2 linked regions of the Homo sapiens genome follow. The protein of the gene in region 1 purifies or fractionates together with the protein of each later gene. This does not show direct contact. Each region holds a gene or a part of one and is shown in the gene's direction. Other genes may lie near its edges.

The links. Proteins that work in one complex are often made in the same cells at the same time.
Region 2: the proteins of INTS1 (region 1) and ZMYND8 purify together in Homo sapiens (affinity purification with mass spectrometry, with the first as the bait; one study listed by BioGRID). This does not show direct contact.

What each region holds. Positions count from the first base shown.
Region 1 is NC_000007.14:1,483,890-1,487,389, reverse strand, and holds part of INTS1 (integrator complex subunit 1), read left to right. Parts: coding exon 1-70; intron 71-288; coding exon 289-468; intron 469-615; coding exon 616-765; intron 766-1,920; coding exon 1,921-2,100; intron 2,101-2,187; coding exon 2,188-2,292; intron 2,293-3,219; coding exon 3,220-3,387; intron 3,388-3,500. UniProt on the Homo sapiens protein: Component of the integrator complex, a multiprotein complex that terminates RNA polymerase II (Pol II) transcription in the promoter-proximal region of genes.
Region 2 is NC_000020.11:47,208,714-47,211,206, reverse strand, and holds the end of ZMYND8 (MYND-type zinc finger-containing chromatin reader ZMYND8), read left to right. Parts: intron 1-309; coding exon 310-446; 3' UTR 447-1,993; downstream 1,994-2,493. UniProt on the Homo sapiens protein: Chromatin reader that recognizes dual histone modifications such as histone H3.1 dimethylated at 'Lys-36' and histone H4 acetylated at 'Lys-16' (H3.1K36me2-H4K16ac) and histone H3 methylated at 'Lys-4' and histone H4 acetylated at 'Lys-14' (H3K4me1-H3K14ac).

The sequences.
Region 1 (3,500 bases):
CCTCCGCCTCGGGCACCTCTTGTGCCGCAGCCGAAACCCTGACTTTCTCCTCCACATCATCCAGCGGCAGGTGAGTGCCGAGGCTCCAGGAGGTAGAGATGGTGGTCTTGGGAGGCCCGGAACCTTCCGGAGGCCTTGGTGGCCAGAAGAGGGCAGGACACACCTGGATGCGGGGCCCATGAGCTGGCTGCTGCGTGTCGCCCTTTCCGGCTCCGCGGTCACCCGGGGGGCTGGCGGCAGGTGTTGGGCCTGGAAGGTGCTGAGCGGGCGCCACTGTCGCCTGCCCAGGCCTCCTCGCAGTCCATGCCCTGGCTGGCGGACCTGGTACAGTCCAGCGAGGGCTCCCTGGACGTGCTGCCCGTGCAGTGTCTGTGCGAGTTCCTGCTGCACGATGCTGTGGACGATGCTGCTTCCGGGGAGGAGGACGACGAGGGCGAGAGCAAGGAGCAGAAGGCCAAGAAGCGGCAGGTCAGGGCCGCCCACCCCTCAGCCCCCCCGCCTCTCACCCCGCACCCCTGTCAGGGCAACCCATGCCTGAGCCCACCAGCCGCGCACCCCACGTCCTACCCGCCTGGCCTGTCACCTGCACCCCTGAGAGCCCCTTCCTCCCTGCAGAGGCAACAGAAGCAGCGGCAGCTGCTGGGCCGCCTGCAGGACCTGCTACTGGGCCCGAAGGCTGATGAGCAGACCACGTGTGAGGTGCTGGACTACTTCTTGCGGCGCCTCGGCTCCTCCCAGGTGGCCTCCCGCGTGCTGGCCATGAAGGTGAGGTGGTGGGCGGGTCTTTCTGCGCACGCTCTTCATGTTTAAAATGAGTAGGCTGGGGACCGGGCACGGTGGCTCACGCCTGTCATCCCAGCACTTTGGGAGGCCAAGGCAGGCAGATTACCTGAGGTCAGGAGTTGGAGACCAGCCTGGCCAACATGGTGAAATCCCGTCTCTATTAAAAATAGAAAAAATTAGCTGGGCGTGGTGGAGGGGGCCTGTAATCCCAGGTACTCTGGAGGCTGAGGCAGGAGACTCGCTTGTACCTAGGAGGCGGAGGTTGAGGTGAGCCAAGATTGTGCCACTGTACTCCAGCCTGGGCAACAAGTGAAACTCCATCTCAAAAAAAAAAAAATAAATAAATGAAAAATAAAGAAGTAAAATGAGTAGGCCTGGGGCAGTGGCTTGCTCTTGTCATCCCAGCACTTTGGGAGGCCGAGGTGGGAGCATCACTTGAGTCCAGGAGTTTGAGACCAGCCTGGGCAACACAGGAAGATCCTCTCTCTACAAAAACTGAAAAAATTAGCCAGGTGTGGTAGTGTGTGCCTGTGTTCCCAGCTACTTGGGAAGCTGAGGCAGGAGGATCACTTGAGCCCAGGAGTTTGAGACCAGCCTGGGCAACATAATGATACCCATCTCTACAAAAAATAAAAGATGAGAAAAATGAGCTGGGTGTGGCAGCATGCACCTGTGGTCCAAGCCACTTGGGAGGCTGAGATGGGAGAATCACTTGAGGCTGTAGTGAGCTGTGATCACACCACTGCACTCCAGCCTAGGCAACAGAATGAGACCCTGTCTTAAAAAGGAAAAGTAAAAATCAAATGAGTGTTCAGTGCACTCTGACTGTATTTTAAGTTCCTTCCCTGCGTAGGAAGGATGCGCTAGTGAAACGTGAAGGTGGACCCTGCCGCCTGCCTGGTGTTCCTTTCTTGCTGGTGACGGGAGGGTCCAGAGTGGCTTCAGGAACTTGAACAGAAGCATTTAACAGAAAGAGCTCAGTCTCGTTTTTCCCTTTTACCTGCGGCCTCTCCCGTGGGAAGCAAGCGCCACATTCTCCTCGGGGCTCTGAGGGCACCATGCGTGTGCTCCCGGGGCCAGGGTGAGACCCTGCCTGCACTGCCGAAAGCCGGCCCAGCTCATGAGTGTCTGCCACAGGGTTTGTCGCTGGTGCTTTCGGAGGGCAGCCTGCGGGACGGGGAGGAGAAGGAGCCCCCCATGGAGGAGGATGTGGGGGACACAGATGTGCTGCAGGGCTATCAGTGGCTGCTGCGGGACCTGCCTCGCCTGCCTCTGTTCGACAGCGTCAGGAGCACCACAGCCCTGGCCCTGCAGCAGGTGAGGGCGCTGACCGGGGCCGCGGCAGGGAAAGATGAGAGGGCCGCAGCCCTGCCCTGTTGCCGCTCAGACCACCCTCCCCTCCAGGCAATCCACATGGAGACTGATCCCCAGACCATCAGCGCCTACCTGATCTACTTGTCCCAGCACACGCCTGTGGAGGAGCAGGCCCAGCACAGCGACCTGGCCCTGGTGAGGCAGCAGGGTCAGCCAGCAGTGTGGCCCTGGGGAGGGGACGGGGCCAGCCGGCAGTGTGGCCCTGGGGAGGGGACGGGGCCAGCCGGCAGTGTGGCCCTGGGGAGGGGACGGGGCCAGCCGGCAGTGTGGCCCTGGGGAGGGGACGGGGTCAGCACAGAGACCCTGCCCTGGGGAGGGTAAGGGGCCAGTGGTGCAGTGCCCTGGGCTGGCGGCTTCTTGGGCCACAGGGAGGCATTGAGGGTGGGAGGGCCGTCACGGCTGCTGTGCTGGGGCTTCTATGACCCCGTGGCCACCTGTGTCCCTTCCTTAGTCACCACTCACTCCCTGGAGCCTTTCTCCCCAGACCCTGAGGATGCGAAGCCACGGGGGTGAGGGTGCCTTGTTCACAGCAGGGTGGAATCTGAGCCATCAGCCTTCTCCCCGACGCCAGGAGGGTTTGGGCTGTGGGCCCAGGTCGCTGGGCACCTGCCCGCTGTCCTCAGCATCTCTAGCTCACATGTGTGGCGCTGACTCCCATCTTCTCTCCTGGGTGCTGTCCTTCTCTGCTGGGCTGCTTCTCACTTTGCATCACGGTTCTCTTGTCCACAACCTGCGCTGTGACCTAGTGAAAGTTGGTGGCCCGAGTCCTCAGGGAATGAGCGATAGGTGAACAGATGGTGGCTGCCGGGCAGAGGGCAGCAGCGTCCGCTTTCAGGGCCTGGTCATTGTCCCTGGCTGTGAGAGTCGTGTCCTCCCTCCCCCCTGGAGAGTCCGACCCAGCTCTGGTCGTCTTCCCTGGCGGCCTGCGGCTGAGTGAGGGTCTGCGGTGCCGCGGGCCCTGCTTAAGATCCCAGTGAGAGCGTGCCTGCGACGAGGTCACCCCAGCTGGCCGGAGAGCAGAGCTGTCTCGGAGCCTCTGACGCCCCCCTGTCCACACACCAGGACGTGGCCCGGCTGGTCGTGGAGCGCTCCACCATCATGTCCCACCTCTTCTCGAAGCTCTCCCCGAGTGCCGCGTCGGACGCCGTGCTGAGCGCTCTGTTGTCCATCTTCTCACGCTACGTGAGGCGCATGCGGCAGAGCAAGGAGGGCGAGGAGGTCTACAGCTGGGTGAGGGCGAGGAGGTCTACGGCCGGGTGAGGGCGAGGAGGTCTACGGCTGGGTGAGGCTGCACGGCACGCTCGGTGCCAGCTGGGTACCCTCGGCGCTGGCTCAGGGTCCCT
Region 2 (2,493 bases), on another chromosome or scaffold:
GGTTCCAGACACGGCACAAGAAATGCCTTCCTTGGCAGTTCAGCACCTTTTCTACAAATCTTTATTCTCTGTGAGCATGACACCCTACCGTTTTTTCAACCGGTTGTCGTTAAATCCTAAAAAATAAGTTGTTCTACCTTTCTGTTCTACAGACCCACAGATGCAGGGCAGTCAGCGGTGGCAGTGTTTGAACCATCAATTGGGAGGGGAAGGTGGTTTCCTGTGCAGGAGGGGCAGGTCAGATTGCAGGATAGTTGTGCTCAGGCGCAGGTGGGCAGGCACGCTAAACACATTGGTTTTCCCCCTCAGACCATTCCCGGAGTAATAAATCCAGTTGGAGCAGCAGTGATGAGAAGAGGGGATCGACACGTTCCGATCACAACACCAGTACCAGCACGAAGAGCCTCCTCCCGAAAGAGTCTCGGCTGGACACCTTCTGGGACTAGCAGTGAATCGGGACACAAACCACCCACCCCATTGGGAGAAAAACCCAGACGCCAGGAAAAGAAGAAACAACAAAGGCAGGAGAACAGCCACTTTCAGACTTGAAAATGACAAAACCCTCAGTTGAGCCTGAGCCCCCGGCGCGGGGGCTGCTACACTACAGGACACCCAGCATCGGCTTTGACTGCAGACTGTTCACCCACACGAGCCCTGTGCTTTTGGTGTAAATAATGTACAATTTGTGGATGTCATTGAATCTAGAGGACTTTCCCCTTTTTATATTTGTATTAACTTTAACTTATTAAAAAAAAAAAAAGAAAAAGAAAAACGATTTAAAAAAAAAAAAAAAAGCAACCAACCCCAACAACAAAAAAGAATGTTTTGGTATTGGAGAAGGGATGGTCAGTTAGCCTGTCTGTCACACGACGGAATGGATACTGGGCCCGGGGACCACTTTCATACTCACGTCCTCATCCTTGGATACCCAGGGGAGGGCGAACCGTTTTCGCTCGTGTGTCTGTACGCAGCATGTTGGGATCGGGAGTTTCGGCACAGACTATCCCATCAAGCCGTTGGCTCCTTTCAGCTACTACGTTACCACGTTCCTAAAACGCAAGCTCTCCGGACCAGACGGACACAGGGAGAAGCTAGTTTCTTTCATGTGATTGAAATGATGACTCTACTCCTAAAAGGGAAAAAACAATATCCTTGTTTACAGAAGAGAAACAAACAAGCCCCACTCAGCTCAGTCACAGGAGAGAACACAGAAAGTCTTAGGATCATGAACTCTGAAAAAAAGAGAAACCTTATCTTTGCTTTGTGGTTCCTTTAAACACACTCACACACACTTGGTCAGAGATGCTGTGCTTCTTGGAAGCAAGGACTCAAAGGCAAGGTGCACGCAGAGGACGTTTGAGTCTGGGATGAAGCATGTACGTATTATTTATATGATGGAATTTCACGTTTTTATGTAAGCATGAAACACAGGCAGTATGAGAGAAAGCAAGGCCCGTCATGCTGTCCGTACACTACGTATGCTGTAGAGCCATTTTGTATGTTGTGTAAAACAAAAAGCATTGATGAAAAAGCAAAAGGTGATGTATGTATATGAGAAAATTAATTGTACGATATCATTCCAGTACGTTTTGTTGTACATTTTAGTCTTGTTTACTTTCTCTTCATTGTTAAGAGGATGCGAACTGTACAGTTTCCAGCTAGTTACCCATATTAGAGAAGAAATAAGAGAGTATTAGAAGAAAACAGGAGAGAAAGAACATTTGTGAATTGCAGTTGTCAAAAAAAAAAAATAGCCTAGCTGGCCTTATTTGTGAAGCATAATTGCTTTTAGCATATGGAAGTATTTTTTCACATTTTCTTTGTATAAAATTTGTATTAAACTTAAATATCTTTTTGATGGTGGTGTTTCTTTGTGACTGAGCCAGTAGACTCACACTATATGCTTTTTTGGGTTTGCCCGTTCCTTCCCCCACCCCCCCAGTTTTTTCAGATTTCTTTACCTTTTTTTAATTAAACTGTTTTGGAAAAATGCCGTGGTCGTCCTCGAATTTGCAGTTTTCCATTTGGTCGGGATGGCTGTGTCAGGTTTGCACGACCAAACACAGAAGGGGCCGTGAGAGGTCATGAACACCCCCCACAGCCAGGTGGTGGGCACACTGGAGAGAATGGGCCCTAGTGGGTGCCCCCCACGCCAGTCCTCGTCAAACAGTTGGGAGAGGACGGAGTTGTCTTCTTGAAGCCCGTAGGGAGGCCGAGCTAACAGGCCTCGCGTGGGCAGCAAGGATCCCAGCCCCTCGCAGGTGCCCTGGTCCATGGCTCTGGGCCTGGCTGGAGGTGCACAGGGTATGAGTAGAATGAAGCCGGCTTGAAAGGCTGAGGTTTGGTTTCCTGGGCAGCAGTGTTCCTTCTCTGCAATCCAGTAACTCCCCAGAAAAGATCTCCACAAACCCCTTCCTGTGCCAAGGGCCAAGACATGACATGGCCGGCAGGGGAGGTTGGCCCGCGTGGGCATAAGTTCATTCCTGCCAATCA